Linked DNA regions of Homo sapiens: region 1 is linked to region 2. A link means that fine-mapping ties the variant in region 2 to the expression of a gene that starts in the linked region. Tissue or cell type: whole blood. Region 2 holds a variant in brackets; the other region holds the start of a gene. All regions are shown on one strand. Distances are from middle to middle.

Evidence for each region. PIP is the estimated chance that this variant, and not a neighbour inherited with it, causes the effect.
Region 1: it holds the start of TMX4, and the variant in region 2 is fine-mapped to the expression of TMX4 in whole blood (INTERVAL, PIP 0.96).

The regions. Positions count from the first base shown.
Region 1 is chr20:8,016,484-8,024,671 of GRCh38, reverse strand. TMX4 (thioredoxin related transmembrane protein 4) reads left to right here and starts at 4,911. Exons shown (of 8, transcript NM_021156.4): 1 at 4,911-5,234. The coding sequence starts at 5,059. It overlaps TMX4-AS1 (TMX4 antisense RNA 1), which reads right to left and starts at 4,766. Exons shown (of 7, transcript NR_184034.1): 1 at 4,568-4,766; 2 at 3,411-4,281; 3 at 2,517-2,613; 4 at 2,223-2,291; 5 at 1,905-2,115; 6 at 1,220-1,401. RefSeq lists silencers at 4,911-5,150, 5,261-5,400.
Region 2 is chr20:7,982,798-7,990,985 of GRCh38, reverse strand. TMX4 (thioredoxin related transmembrane protein 4) reads left to right here. Exons shown (of 8, transcript NM_021156.4): 6 at 3,597-3,698; 7 at 7,129-7,192. Among named protein-coding and RNA genes, the nearest start is that of TMX4, 33 kb to the left of the region's middle. RefSeq lists an enhancer at 6,213-6,830. The variant C/G (reference allele first, on the strand shown) is at 3,653.

The DNA.
Region 1 (8,188 bases), 34 kb before region 2:
TTCTCCATTCTACCTCTTGTTCCTGTAAGGCATTTAGCAAATCTGTTTGTGTAATTAAATTTTTGTACTATTATTACTTTATGGACTAATTTTACAGCATTGCTTAACTTATTTAATATTTCCATACTGGTTTTACCATCTTCGTTAGGAAAACCATTGTATAACTATACCCTATTATTACAGAGTTTGTAATCTGAATACCATCTCCTTATCTTTCATTGATTATCCTCTTAATATCAAGTCCTGACCTACTTTTATCAAAGGCATTGTCTATAGCTATGTATTAAAATTTTCTACCATTAGAATATAAGTTTTATCCCTCTTGGTAAATCGTTTTCCTACTCCATTATTCAAGGGTAAAATAGGTGTGTTTACATAATTCTCAACATACACTTTTGAATCTTTTTTTCAATAAGCTTAACAAAAATTCTGTAACATTTAATGAACACTTAAATACCAAGGCATCAATCCATCTACCCGCCCACAGGCTTGAAAATCATTTTCTCCAATACCTTTGCATAAGATGCATCTTACAGGACCTACTCACAGAAGGTAAAAACGGAGAGGCAGTTCTTACTCTGCTCTCTGAAAATATCACCTCCCCTCCAAAATAAAGAACTCTCAGCTGTTCATAAATAAGTATTCAAAGGAAGGCAGTGAGTTAGTCAAAATAGGCTAGACTATGCTTCAGTGACAATTCCAAATTTTCAGAGTGGCTTTTTGATAGTATGGCTGCAATTTATTTTGCTGCTTCTTATTAAAGGATAGTCTAATTCCTCTCCCCTTCAGTCTGGTGTGTCTTCAGTGCCTTGACTAATAGAATGAGGTAGAAACGACACTCTTAGACTTCTAGAGCAATGCAGTTTCCACCTTCTGGGAACTCTTGCTCTAGAGAAATTAAGTATGACAGCCCTCAAACTGCCATGCTGAAGGAAGCCGAAGCCAGCCACATGGAGAGACTGCGTGGATAAGAGCAATGCCTGTGCAGTCCCCAGCTGTTCCAGCCAGCCTACACTAAGTGCCAGATGTGGGTGCAAGGGACTTCAACTAATTCTGGCCTCGGCCTCCAGGGGTCTGCCACCATATAAAAGAGTACAAGCAAATATAGCCCAGCTGAGCTCTTGAACCCCCAAAACCATGAGAGGTGAGTTTTGGGATGGTTGATTAGGCAGAAATAGTTAACCTGAATAATCTCTCATAGTGAAAACGTATTTCTTACCTTTGTAAAGTCCTTTTAAGAATCCTGGGAACCACCCAATGCTGCTATTCTCCACCAGGCAGCTCAGCAATTCAGGCTGCTCTGGTCTTGTAGACTCTTAGATCATGATCTTTTCTCTAAAATTTCCACAGCAGGAGAACAGAACACTGGGACATTTTGTGCCGGTGATTAAATACTTCAGCCTGGAAATGATACATACCCACCCCTTCCATTTGTAGCCCATTGGCCAATTCATATAAATATGACTAACTTCTGAGGGGTGTAGGAGCATCCTCCTCTGTGGGGCAGGGAAAGAGAGGGGGACTAGATAGGATCTACCACACTCTTCTTCCCCTCTCTCCTGCTAATGATGTTACCTCATCAGAGGCCTAGGAATTCCTTTGCCTACTAGGAACCACATATTTTTGTGTAATCATAGCTGCCCTGCAGTGCCACCATCACTCTGGGGGAAAAAGCCTTTTCTCCTAGTACCAGGTACCAATCTTCTTAAACCTGTAAATCCACGTTTTAAACATAAACATGGATCACACACTGACCTAGCATAGCATTACAGCATAACAAATTGCCCCAAATCTTAGTGGCTTGATATTATGTAACAACATTGATTACCTCACAGTTTCCGTGGGTGGAGGTCCCAGCTAAGCTAAGCTTTGCCCCCTGGTTCTGGGTCATTTATAAGGCTCACCCGTCTCAAGAGCACTGGTGACAGATTTGCTTCTAGGTCACTCATGTGGTTGTTTGAAGATCCAGTTCTTTGAGGGCTGTTGGGCTGAGGTCTCAGTTGCTTAGGCTGCAGACCTCCCTTGTCACATGGAGCTCTCCACACAGAGTCGCAGAGTGAGTGTGCAAGAGGAAAAGAAGTTTCCAGCAAAATGGAAGTCTCAGGTTTTTGTAACCTTAACAAAGAAGTGATAATCCATCAGTTTTCCCATCTTCTGTTAGAAGTGGGTCACCAGGCCCAACCCACACTCAAGAGGAAAGGATCACACAAGGGCCTGAATACCAGGAGGGAGAGATCTTGGGAGGAGTGCCAGAAGCTGTCTATCCCAAGTACATCTATGGGATGGGTATTCTGCAATACAGGGGACACAAAGATATATAAGGTAAAGCCCTTGACCTTGAAGAGTTTTTAGTAGTGGTTGGAGGAGTGAGGGTAGAGGGTGATAGCTACATATAAATGCATTATACTATGAAAGGTATGTGGTGAAGTTATTGTATTAGTCCATTTTCACGCTGCTGATAAAGACATACCCGAGACGGGGTAATTTATACAGGAAAAAGTGTTTATTCAACTCACAGTTCCTCATGGCTGGGGAAGCCTCACAATCATGGTGGAAGGCACGGAGGAGTAAGTCATGTCTTACGCGGATGGCAGCAGGCCAAAAGAGAGACAGCTTGTGCAGGGAAATTACCATTTTTAAAACCATCAGATCTCATGAGACTTATTCACTATCACGAGAACAACATGGGAAAGACCCGCCCCCATGATTCAATTATCTCCCATGGGGTCCCTCCCACAACACGTGGGAATTAGGGGAGCTACAAAATGTGATTTGGATGGGGACACAGAGCCAAACCATATCAGTTATACAGAAGAGCAATTGGATCTGAGAAGAGACAGCAGCTCATTCTGCATGAGCTATCAGAGGTACAGTGTGGACTACATGACAGAGACTGAATGATTCACTGGACAACTGGAGAAGAGTGTTCTAATCAGAATGAAGGAGCAAGGAGACACTGAAGTACACAATGTGCTTTGGGAATGGGGAGTAGCTTTGTGTTACTAGGACACAGGGAACTCTGGGAATAGTGGAATGTAAAGTGGGCAAAACTGAAGCTGGGCTGTGAGAGGCATTGTGTATCATGCTAAGTGAAGTTAACTTTAGTATAAGAAAAATAGACATTACAGCGTATTGTTGCCTCCAAATAATAATATTAGTGTTGGCAATATTGTGGCAAAAACCACAATTATGTTTGCACCAACCTAATATGTAAGCTTTTTGAGTTAGAATATGTGCTAGGCATTATTCTTATCTCATATAATCTTCACAGCCACCTTTTGGAGCAGGTTCTATTACTACCCGCATTTTAAGAGAACTTTGGTGTGGACTAGTTTTAGCCCCAAATCACATGGCTAGGAAGTGTCAGGGCTAAGATGCCAATCATGGTCTGACAGCAACAGGTCCCTTACCCTGGTCTGTGACTCCTTACGGCAAGGTCAGTCCCATACTTCCTTGCTACTTTCTTCCTACCATCCTTAGTCTGAAGGCTAAGACTTCAGTTTTTGTTAAAGATAGGAAATGCTTTGGTAATGGCTGTCTTTCATGCTGAAGATGCTCTCTCTCCTTTTAGCTTTTCATTTTGTAAATTTTCCAACATATGCATGAGTAGGTAAAGTAGCAAAATGAACTTAGCTTCAACACTGACTGATGTTGCACCACTTTTCTTTCACCTATCTTCTTTCCATTCCCTACATTTTATTTCTGGAGCATTGTAAAACAAATTCTACACATCATTCTATCATGAAAGTGATAAAATGACAGAATTCCTGTTTATGAGTCACTTCTTTTTACAAGCACAGTAAAATGTTTTCCATTGAGTTTATGGAATTGATATGTATGTACTTAATAACAGTGAGTCTTAGTAGCATTCATTGCAAAGACATTTTCTTAAATTTCAATAGTTTGTAAACCCTTGAGTGTTTTATTTTAATGATAAGGGCTAGGTCCACATAGTTTTTAGCTAATACTAATTAATGCATAATGCAGGCCAGATCTTCTCTTCAGGCAAAATTAACTTCCCTCTCCTATAAGTATTGATTGAAATTTGCTCTCATGTGCCCTGAAGTACTTTTAGTCTTATTGCTGTCTTTGTTTTAAGCCGAGGGCAGAAACCACATCCTTTTCATGGTCTATTAACCACATTACCGAGGTTCATGGTTTGCACAACTAGTAAACACATACAAAGCACCCTTTGAGAAAGCTTCCTCATCCTTTAATTGTAATCCAGTCTTATATATTAACGGTGTGGTGGTCCCAAGGTACAGATTCATCTAATGTGACCTGGAAAGAAATTTGGAAATCACTTAAGGCTACCCTCATTTTAGATCTGACAAAACTGTAGTCAAGAGAAATGTGAGGTCCATTTTACTGCAGGTGGCAATAGTCTTAATTGACTCATTTTATCGGCTAGTACCCATGTTTTTAAGAGTTTCTATGAAATTAACATTTTTTGTAAAAAAAATGCAATTGCATAGGCTAGTTTCATCAATATCCTAAATTAGTGATGCTTCAATATACACATGCAGAGTACTTAAATTTTCCTCTCTCTTCAGCAGGAGATACTCACCACGTCCCTCCATTTTTCATTAAACATACGTGTACCTTGCAGCCCGTTGCTTTTATATTTGCTATCATTGAAGAGGGGATGGATTTTAAAATTACTGGCCATGTTTCCCTTTAGAGAAGCCCACACGCGCCAACCCTGCCCTTATTGGAGCCTGGGCAGCAGCGGTGCATGTTCTAACTTAGGCAACGTTGGGTCATCTGTTTATTGTCAGCTTGGCGGTCAGGAAGAAAGGGCGGTGGTTGCTGAGGTAACCGACACCCCGGGCAACGGCAAGTGGAGGCGGGAGGGGGCGTGGCCTCGACGGGCAAGCGGCGATAAGAGGTGGCGTCCTCCGCGGCATTGCGAGCACCGCCAGTCTGCGCCGCTAGGCGTAGGCGGGGTGGCCCTTGCGTCTCCCGCTTCCTTGAAAAACCCGGCGGGCGAGCGAGGCTGCGGGCCGGCCGCTGCCCTTCCCCACACTCCCCGCCGAGAAGCCTCGCTCGGCGCCCAACATGGCGGGTGGGCGCTGCGGCCCGCAGCTAACGGCGCTCCTGGCCGCCTGGATCGCGGCTGTGGCGGCGACGGCAGGCCCCGAGGAGGCCGCGCTGCCGCCGGAGCAGAGCCGGGTCCAGCCCATGACCGCCTCCAACTGGACGCTGGTGATGGAGGGCGAGTGGATGCTGAAATTGTGAGTGTGCCCGCCCGCCCCGGACGCCGCAGTGTCCTCGCGGGCGTCACCCTCCCAAGCCCGCGCGGCCCGGTGGCGATCCCGCATTGCCGCTTGGGCTCAACCTAAAACCCCGGACCAGGCTTGCCAACAACCTGCGGCGCCGGTGCCGGGCCGCTTGCGATCCTGCACTGCCGCTGGGCTCGACCTGGGGTCCGCGGACCCGCCTTACCAACGACCTGCGGCTGTGGGGCCCGGCCGCTCGCGCCGCGCATGCGCGCCGAGCCCTCGCGGTGACAGCCGAGGGTGCAGCGCGTCCCCTTGCTTTGGGGGACAGTGTTTTCGGGGTGGAGTGGGCAGCTTCCCATAGGGAGGAGAAGGGAAGGAAGAAAATCTGCAAGCAAACCGTGTGCTTTTAGATACAGATATGTATTGGAAGAGAAAGGACATTCAGTGACATCCACGTGCAGTATGAATACGTAGCACAGGCTAAGCAAGTTACCTGTTGAAGAAATTGCAGCACGGTGAAGGCAGGCCATTTGTGTCGTAGTCTTCCGTTTGAAGACCTGGAGATGTCATTGTGAGAATAAAACATAAATATGGATGCCTTTTAAATTTTACAGTATGATTTCAAATAAATGTTGATACTTATTATAACTTGTAAAGGTAGGACTTTCTGAGTAATATTAATAATTGTGCCATAAAGAAAAGAAGATACGCATTGCCCCTTTTAACAATAGAAAGCAAATGGTGGATAGTGCCTTTTCTTTAAGGAGATGGGAAACTACAGTTTTGAGTTAGGAGAAAGAAAGGGATTTGTTGATTATAGTTTAACCTTATAATAGGAAGTGACCATTTGAAAGAGGCTTGCAGTGGATGGTGGGCAGATGTCTGAGCGGGCTTGAGAGACCATCATGGTGGGCTTGCAGACTCTCTCTCTCTCTCTCTCTCTCTCTCTCTCTCTCTCTCTCTCTCTCCCCCTCCCTCCCTCCCTCCCTCCCTCCCTCCCCCTCTCTCTCTCTCTCCTCTCTCTCTTCTCTCTCTCTCTCTCTCCCTCCCTCCCTCCCTCTCTCTCTCTCTCCTCTCTCTCCTCTCTCTCTCTCTCTCTCCCTCCTCTCTCTCTCTCTCTCTCTCTGTCTCTCTCTCCCCTCCCACAACTCCTTTCCACCCTACCTGCCCCCCTCCCGCCCCCACCCCCCAAACATAAAATCTTTCAGGAAATTGCCACATCTCTTTAGCCTGTGGTTTCTGGCAATCTGTATACTACTATTGAATCTTTGTTTTACGTTGAGGACACAGACAGAAAATTGGATCTTTCCTTTATCCAAGACCAAGTTTTGATTCTTTCAATTTAAATTGCAAGCAGGTGCCTATGGAGTGAAAACCTCAGTGTGAGATCAGAGCCAAAATTTATGTCACACAGCAGATTACATTGCTCGAAGAACATAAGGCATATCACCCCTTCAAATGTGCATTTACCTCTTAGTCACAAAGAAGGGGATATTTTAGACCTCCAAATGAAATACCCTTGGTATCATAATAAATCAATGAAATTATTAAAGGGAACTGTAGACATGAATTATTAAAATATTCCACTTAACTATTTTTGGAAGAAGGTGAGGGGGTCATATTCTATTTGAGAAACTTTTAAAATAAGTGGAGCTGTGTTAAGACTTCCATGTTTGTAATAATTTTAAGAGTTTGGGATAAACTGCATTTTGTCAGCCAATACTACAGAAAGTTCTCTTTTCAGTAGGTGCTTACAAAATGGACTTTTTCCTAGATGTCATCTTTCAGGGTAAAACTGAGTTTGCATATGTATGTAAGAAAAGTTAAAACAGAAAGGCCTCCTCATTTTTAATGACTTCAACTCCTCTATGGTTCCTTTTGGAATTGCTTTTTTTTTGGTAATAGAATTAAGAACACTAAAGCCTCAATAAGTTTTTGAGGGAGAGCCAACAACATCTGTGCTTGGCCATGTTGATGGTTCAAATTTTACTTTTTTATGAATGTATAAACCTAAACATAGTAATCAATTGCTCTGAGTTTGTCATGTGTCCAGTTGTATGGAATATGCTTGGCCTGTGATGCCAGATGAGTCTTGTAATCTGGAAGTAAGCTGTGTAGACACAAGGTCATTTTAGTAGACATTCTCTTTTTATCGAGTGCACTTCAGAATAGGTGGCTAGGAAGCAAGGCTGTCAATGAAAATTGATCCAAACCATTCCATCCAACTTCTTTATACGCACTAAAACCCAAGTGCTCATCCTGAAGAAATATTTTGGTTCTTATCTATTTGTGATCTATTTTTTTCTGTATTATCAGGTGATACTCCTCCTCCTTGCTGTGAAAAAAACTCCAGTACTTAAAAAAATATAAAATTCATTATATCCTCCATACCACTAGAGGCCTGCTATGAATTTCTAAGAATTCATTTAAATAGCCTATACGTTACCAGATTTTTTTTTTTATGTATATAACAGAGAAAAACAAAATGCATTAAAATTAGCTTCATCTTGACACTTAGTTCAGATGAGCTGGTCATACATAAATGGAAATTGTTAGTAGTTCAAAGATGTTGTAGTTAACTTCTTTAAAGAAACAGATTGAGAAGCTTTTGTTGTAGTTAACTTCTTTAAAGACACAGATTGAGAAGCTTTCCGATATCAAAATGTATTCATTACTTTGAATGAGAGTTCTTTATTTGTTCATTTGCTTATATGCGCTCTTTCATCTGGGAATTTTTTCTTTTATACGCCACGTCATACAGATCCCCTCTAATGCAGTTTCTGGTTATATTGGTATAGATAATTTATTCTTAAGAATCTAGCAGTATTTGGCAGCCCTGAGACATGAAAAGCTTCTATTATGAAATTAAATTTGGTTATTTTTTCTTAGTCTTTCAAACAGTCAATTTTTTGGATTCTTGCAATTGAATTTCCAGTGTTTTAAAAATGTATGAGTTAAAAGTATAT
Region 2 (8,188 bases):
TCGTATAAAAATGTTTAGAATGTTTTGTAGAATGTTATAGTGAGACAGTGGTGCACATCTGTAAGGTACCTTTCATAGATCCTACAAGAGGCTGCAAGGTTATGTTTTGTTACAAGTGCTAAGAGCTAAAGCATGAAAGAGGTGAACCCTTGGCCATCATTGAAGAGTCTTTTCTAGCTGTTTCCTTGCAGGGAAGATATTTTGGGGATTCTGATCTGTGTCTGAAAGAGATAAAGGGCTTGTTCCAGAACTCCTCAGAGAGTATATCCTATGACACAGGTGAACTCTAAATCCAAAGGCTCTCTGTCCTTCAGGGCCAGTCTAGGTTTGAATGAGACTCTGCAACACTGGGCTGGATGAGTGGGTGTGACTAAGTAGTATTTAATCCAACCTGCAGTAGTTTAGACTTCCAGAGGGAGTGCTTGCCTTTCTGGGGAGGGAAGGCTCTACCTCAGATGCATGGAGGCCTTGGCTTGGCTGTCTTCCTTAAGTCTGTCTGACCACTGATTAGAATGCTCTTCTCATTTATTCTGTTGTAATGATGTTTTAATTTCATCTTCTCACTCAAATATGTATGTAGCCAAAAGTTAGCTCTAACTTAATCATGTACTATGATAGTATAAGGTGTCACACCCATCAGATGACATTTTAGTGCATTTTCAGTGAACAGACTAAGATTTTTTTTTTTTTTGAGGCAGAGTCTCACTGTGTCACCCAGGCTGGAGTGCAGTGGGGCGATCTCAGCTCACTGCAACCTCCGCCTACCGTGTTCAAGCAATTCTCCTGCCCCAGTCTCCCAAATAGCTGGGACTACAGGCGCCTGCCACCAAGCCCCACTAATTTTTGTATTTTTGTTAGAGACAGGGTTTCACCATATTGGCCAGGCTGGTCTCGAACTCCTGACCTCGTGATTCACCCGCCTCGGCCTTCCAAAGTGCTGGGATTACAGGTGTGAGCCACCGCGCCCAGCCCGAGTAAGATACTTTCTTATTCATCTAGTACCATAGTATAAGGTATCATGCCCATCAGTTTACATTTTTGTGCATTTTCAGCGAACAGCATGGGATATTTCCTTGTGGTAAGCACATATAATATTGAATAAGGATCAGTATTTTCCACAAGTGAAAACTGTCACTTTGCCTGGTAGTTAAAGAAACAGAAACACAATGATCTAAAACTGAATTGGATTTTATTTAATAAGCTATTCCTTTGGAAACATATATAAAGCAAAACTTCAAGGACATGGTACCACTAATCCTAACACTCATAAGGGGCTTTAAAGCTGTTGTAGACTCAGACAAAGTAGACAGATAAATATTTATATCTGTAGTTGTGAAAGTACAACCTGATTAATGAATAGTTACTAATAATGACCTAAAAGACCAGAAGATGGCAGAGTTTCTCCAAGAAACTCAAATTCCGTTAAAGAGGAAATTGATACAAGAAAATTGAAGTGCAGCTTATTAAAATAAGAGGATGTTTTGAAAGTACTAAGTGTTTGAGTCAGAATGCAATGCTTCAAAAGCAAATGATTTAATGAAATTTAAAAATAATTTAGAAAGTTTCTTGAGAGTTGCATTAATCATTTATTTTGCAGAAAGGGCATGAGATACTGTATAGAAGGACTTAAAACTGCACATTATTTTTCCTAACCATATGAGTAAGATAAATCAGCAGATACTTATAAAGCAAGTTCTAAAATACATTCATGGGTTGACACAGAGGCAGATTGACTTTGACCATCTTCTAATTCTTTGGCACATTTCCGGGTTTAATATTGATGATACTGAGTCCTCCGAGAAAAGCATAAGCTTAATACACAGTATTTTCTAAAGTAGGAAACTATACAGTAAATTTTAAAACTTTCTTTGAAAAGAGTTTGAATGAAATGATGTTTTGATATCTCAAACACGCCTTTTGCTTGCTGAGTTGTAAAATGCTAAGTTACTTTTTTTTTTTTTTTCTTGAGACGGAGTCTTGCCCTGTCACCCAGGCTGGAGTGCAGTGGCGCAATCTCAGCCCACTCCCTCTGCCTCCGGGGTTCAAGCAATTCTCCTGCCTCAATCCCCTGAGTAGCTAGGATTATAGGCGCTTGCCACTACGCCCAGCTGATTTTTGTATTTTTAGTAGAAACAGGGTTTCACCATGTTGGTCAGGCTGGTCTCGAACTCCTGACTTCGTGATCTGCCCGCCTCGGCCTCCCAAAGTGCTGGGATTACAGGCATGAGTCACCGTGTCCAGCCAAGTTACTCTTAATAAACAGTTGTCCTGGCTAAACACACACTGATGACCAGTGCCATCAACAGAGGACAGATGCCAGCTTTACAGTTTGAGAGTGTGTTTGCCTTTCGTATGAATAAATAGCTCAGGCATTTGATGCATCTTTTCCTTATTCAACAAATACTGATTGAACACTTTGATTCCATGTGTCAGTGTTTAAACTACTTGCTGCGTCTTTAGCTCTATCTCTTCTGCTGAATAAGAAATTGTAGAGAGATATTTCAGATTTTGCTAAATCAGTTTACAAGCTTTGTTCTTTATTTATCATTCCAAATTAAGCCAGAATAAAATATGTTTTTTAATTGCATTGACATAAACTAAGAAACCAATGGGAGTGATTTAGATTTTGAGAAATAGGAAATTAAAATAGAAACTTGGACTCATTTTCATCAACCTTACTGGTTCTAGGGAAGTCATTGTCATTACCTCTCTTGCTGATGATATTTGGAGCCATATCATCCTGTGTCCAGTAGTTACTTGAATTTTAATGGCCATTTTTGAAGCTGTCAGGGTCTTGAACAAATGACTAAGTGATTGTGAGGAAGCATGGCTCCTGCAACTCTACATCTAAGTAGGTTTTGACTTTGAAATAGCAAGTTCATATCTGTTAATTTCTTTATGATTTAGCATGTAAATACTTTCTAGCTGTGATTATGTCCCTTCACTCATTTTTAGAGTGTTTGTCATCAAATAGAGTCTTAGGGAACAGTAAGCATGAAGGGATATACACTCTATTCAAAGACTGCTGGAATCTCATTTGCTCATAATAAATTAATCAGAAAAACTTTCTTCTGTCTACTGTTACATTTTATGTTTTCTGGTAATTTACCAAACTTTGAAAGGATGAATAGGTGTAGAGCAATGAGAGTCTAATTAGGAAAAAGAGGTATGGAGACATTTTAAATGATTGACGTTCTGTAAGTCGTAATTTAGTTTTACTAAAAAGTCAGAGGCCCAAAAAGTTTAATTTTTTCATGAATGCCCTATTATAAGTAAACATTGAGATGTATATAATTATTAGGGGAGGAGGGCCAAAAGCATCCATCATGATGGAAGAAAGGACTATCAAAACGATTCTACCAGAATTCTATCCAGATTATGAACTCTAAGCAAGTATAACTTTTTTTTTAGTAATGACCTTAATTACTACTCTCAGTTTCCCAATATTATAAAATTGACTTGTTCTTTAAGAATCATTTAGATACATAAAGCTTTGTGGGAACCTATGTATGTAGAAACAACAGCTAGAGAGAGAGATTGAAATATTTTTGGTTCTCTTAAAAATTAATGTTTTATTTTTTTTCTTCTGATTCCAGCATCTTCACAACTATTTCACAGTGACTCTTGGAATTCCTGCTTGGTGTTCTTATGT[C/G]TTTTTCGTCATAGCCACCTTGGTTTTTGGCCTTTTTATGGGTCTGGTAAGAGATAATACCAAACTTTTTCTATCTTTAAGGCAAAATGAATTTCATGTACAAATAAAAGGCAGCCAAGAAAGAAAAAGCACATAAAAAATAGTATTTTGTGCAATCTAAGTAGTTAAATAGCATTTGCTTGTTTGAGACTGCTTTCAATGGTAATGTGAGATATAACAGAAAATTTATTAAATTCTTATCCCCTAATCCTATCCCTTAAGTATTTTGAAGATGTGTACTGCCTATAGACAGTAATTAAAAAAAAAAAAAAAAAGAGACCTTACTAGAATTGATAGTTTCTAAGACAACTGAGTCAGCTGTGATTTCACACATTGCCTGCTTAATTAGAAACACTGTAGTGATAAGGCCAAGGTTTTGAATTTGTTCCTTGTGTAGATGCAAGATTGTTGTTGTTGTTGTTCTTATCCTCCAGTTAAACTAATCCTGACTAGCCGCTTATGCATACACTCTGGTTTTCCTGAGATAGATAATGTAGTTAACACAACACAATTATTCTTTGGGCATGAAAATCAGTATGCAGTATATATCTCCCCAGGTATTTTCTCCCCAGGTATTTCAGGCAAGAGTTGAATAATAAATTTATTTATCTAACTACATAGGCAACTATAAATGTTCAGCATGTTGTACTTCTTGTTATTTTTTATTTCTCTTAACCTAATCTTGATTAGTTTGATTGCATTTTAAACCCTAATTAAACCAAAAAGTTTTTAAAAACCTTTATATTGTATACTAAACACATAGTTCCTAAACACTATAATGGGAATAATTGATGATTACTAAAAATTTATGTCAAAGAACAGACTTTAAGGTAAGATTATCTTAAAGTCTGTCCTTATATTTTATAATGAATTTTGGCTCTTTAGCAAGTTCTTTTTAAAAATGTTAACAATTGACTTATAGTAAGTCACAACCCCAAGAGGCCAAGGAGGCTCGATTTGACTTTTCTATGAACATGCTTAATACATATCATGGCTTATCTTTGAAACTTGGCTCCTGATGTTAACTTCAGGGATAAGAATGGGACTTACTTAGATATCTGTATATGTCCTTCATTAGGTCCTGGGTATGTTCTGTTCTGTTGCATTAATCTTTTTGCTAATTAACATGTCCCCATTGCTCCCGTCTAAAGGGATTTGACACCGGATATAAATAGAATGTGATTGTCTGTGCTTCTCCCATCTGTTGTCTGGTGCGAGATTTTTCTAGCAGTGTATTTTGGGGCTACCATAGTGTGAGGTTCTTGTAGGGGGAAACAGTATGAGGTCCCAGGCGAGTCAATGATGGAGTTATAGGGAATGTAGGTTGTGTGTGACCCTGTTGGAAGACTAGTGAAAATGCTTAGAGTTTTAGAATATTATTTTTGATGTTGACTTTAAGTCCATGAAATTGAGTCAGGCCTGCCTGCCTATGCCTTAGATTCCTTTGGAAACCTAGATTCAGATAATCAGTGTAGAAAGGTTATTGGAGGCTTGGCCTGAAGAAAGGAGAGAGTGATTCTAGCCTGTTCAAGTGATTAAGTGAGATAGACTACCCTTCCTTAATAAGAAAATAACTTTATTTAACAAAATATTATTAACTTTATTAACGAAATAATAATTTCAAAGCATATGAATCATAAATTATAAAAGATTCATACATTTACTGTTAATAAGTTTCCAAAAAATAACAAACACATATCTGTGTTCAAAGTACCTGTTTTAGGCTGGGCACAGTGGCTCAGGCCTGTAATCCTGGCACTCTGGGAGGCTGAGGCAGGTGGATCATTTGAGCCCAGGAGTTTGAGACCAGCCTTGGCAACATGGTAAAACCCTGTCTCTACAAAAATACAAAAATTAGCCTGGCATGGTGGCACACACCTGTAGTCCCAGCTACTCGGGAGGCTGAGGTGGGAGGATCACTTGAGCCCAGGAGTTCGAGGCTGCTGTGAGCCATAATCTTGCCACTGTACTCCAGCCTGGGTGACAGAGCTAGACCCTGTCTCAAAAAAAAAAAAAATATATATATATATATATATACACACACACACATATATATACACACACACACAGAATGCCTTTTCTATAACTGTTAAGTATATTAAAGTAAACACACAACTGCTAGAATTTTTGCTTTTAGTAACCTTTAATTTCTTATGTACTTTCAACTTCTGTTTTGTGAGAGTTACACAATTTGAAACAGCTGCATTCTTATCCCAATTTAAATCACCTATTCCAGAATGACATTTTTGTTAACTTCTAGGATGATAGAAAAGTGTTTGTCAATTGTTTTCATGTCTTAGCCACATAGAGAATATTTACGTAGCATGCCAGGGTAAAGGAATACTGGGGGACAAAGCTGCCTGAGGCTGGCTCTGAATGGCCCAGACTCCTTGAAGGATGACATGTCTGTTGGGAAGCTAGGATCCAAATTTTTTTTTTTTGTAATCTCACCAACTGAGTCAAAATTAAATGAGTAAATTAGATAGACTAAACCTGAGATAAAATTGTTGAGTGTACAATTTTCCAGAATAGAAGAGTAGGATAAATTAAGATGATGGATATGGTAATTACACTGATTTGATCATTATACTGTAATACATGCATTGAAACATCACATTGTACCCCATCAGTATATATAGTTACTGTGTGTCAATTATAAATAAAAAAGAAAAGTCAGAAAGAAACATTATGTCCTAGAATAGCCAGTAAGCATATAACTATCACATTAAAAGGTAAGGTTTTCAAACCTGAATCATTTCAGATGGAATGTTTTTTTTTCTCTTTGTTGTTCAAATTGATTTAATGGCTTAGAGCTTATTGTTCTCCAACCCACCAAGCCTTCCTGCAACTCATTGCCCCACCTCCTGGGTCTCCTCAGTTTGACATTCAGGGCTTTCTCTGGATCCAAGACCCCCATGGAGATCCAACTTAGTTTAGCTTAGAGCAGCCAGGCGGTGCTGCTGTTCTCTCCTGACTGCCCAGGGCATTAAATGCCTCCTCCTTCAAAGTCATCCTCAATCCTTCCCCACCCACAGCTGGCTGTAACATTTGTGAAATGTTCTTCCATTCAATCAGGGGTTACCCGTTGGTGAGGGGCAGCCTATATACAGAGTGGTTTGGTTGTCCAGAATAGTGTATTTAAAAAGACTTGGTTCATAGTGTCTATCTTCTTATACCTGCTTGGTTCATCTATTTATAGTGGGTTCTCTGTAGACTTTTGGCTTTGTGACCACTTTCTAAATTAATATTTTCCTGTATTATGTCACATTTGAAAAGTAGGAAATTCTTAATTATATCCTTGTCTCTTGTGAAGACTTTTGACTAGCTGCTAATTATTAGTCTAAGAATATCTGATTATAGAAGCAAGGCCTAATTTTGAGGTCCTTTGGTAATAAATGTCCTATCTATTCACTGTAAAATCACTTTTTTCCTTCCAGGTCTTGGTGGTAATATCAGAATGTTTCTATGTGCCACTTCCAAGGCATTTATCTGAGCGTTCTGGTAAGTACGATAAGCTCCTGTGATCTAGAGTGTTTTTGGAATTCTGTGATGTGCCTTTTTGTGCTCATATAGATAGTGGGTTTTCTCTGTGATTTACTAGGTGACCAAATAATCACTACCAAATTTCTTAAAATGTGTTTTCTAGGTAGATTTGAACAAAATTATTTTTCTCCCTTTCTTAAATTAGGAAATATTTCATTTTGGCAATTGCTTTTTCTTTTTAAGTATGTGCTCTTCATTAATCAGTGTCATATTTTCCTTTATTCTAACTAGAACTAGAAGGGAAGAAGGGAAACTCAATATATATTGCTTCTGCTGTGTGCTAGTAACTCTTCTAAGTCCTTTAAAAGCAGTCTTCCCAAATCCTTGCACTGCTCCACACTTCTTCTGGGGCCAGGTGCCTCTGGATTTGCATGTCTTTATTCCAGACTATTTTTGAGACTGCATAAAGATGTTCATGAGACTTTCTAATTGTTGAATTTTATGTGGGAGTTTAAATAAGCTCATGTTTCTTTTTAGTTCTTGAAGTTTTTGAGGCTTTGAGACTTCCATTGATAATTTGAAAATATGATTCTTAGATTTCTTAAAAGTAATAGAAACCCAATATCAAGGATTTTAGGAAAACAAATGAAAATTTATTAGCTCACATAACTGAAAAGCCCAGGGACATTCTAGCTTCAAGCACGGCCCAAGTGATGTTAGGTTTCTCTGTCTGTGTGGCTTATTCATAAGAGCTGTTGATAGTCCTTGCGCATTTTCTCTGTTTAAAAATCCCTGAAGAAAAAGAGGCTGTTTCTCCTGACTCTGGCCCAGAACCTCTGTGGAGTACTTTGAGTGGCTTAGCATGTCACATTTCTGAACCAATCACCATGACCAATAGGGTCACTGAGCTTTCTACAAGACACAAAATACCGAGCGTAAAGGACCCTTTGCCCTTGCTGCCCACATGCCCTGCTGAAGTCATTATGGTCCATGAAATCTCCAGAGACAGGTGGA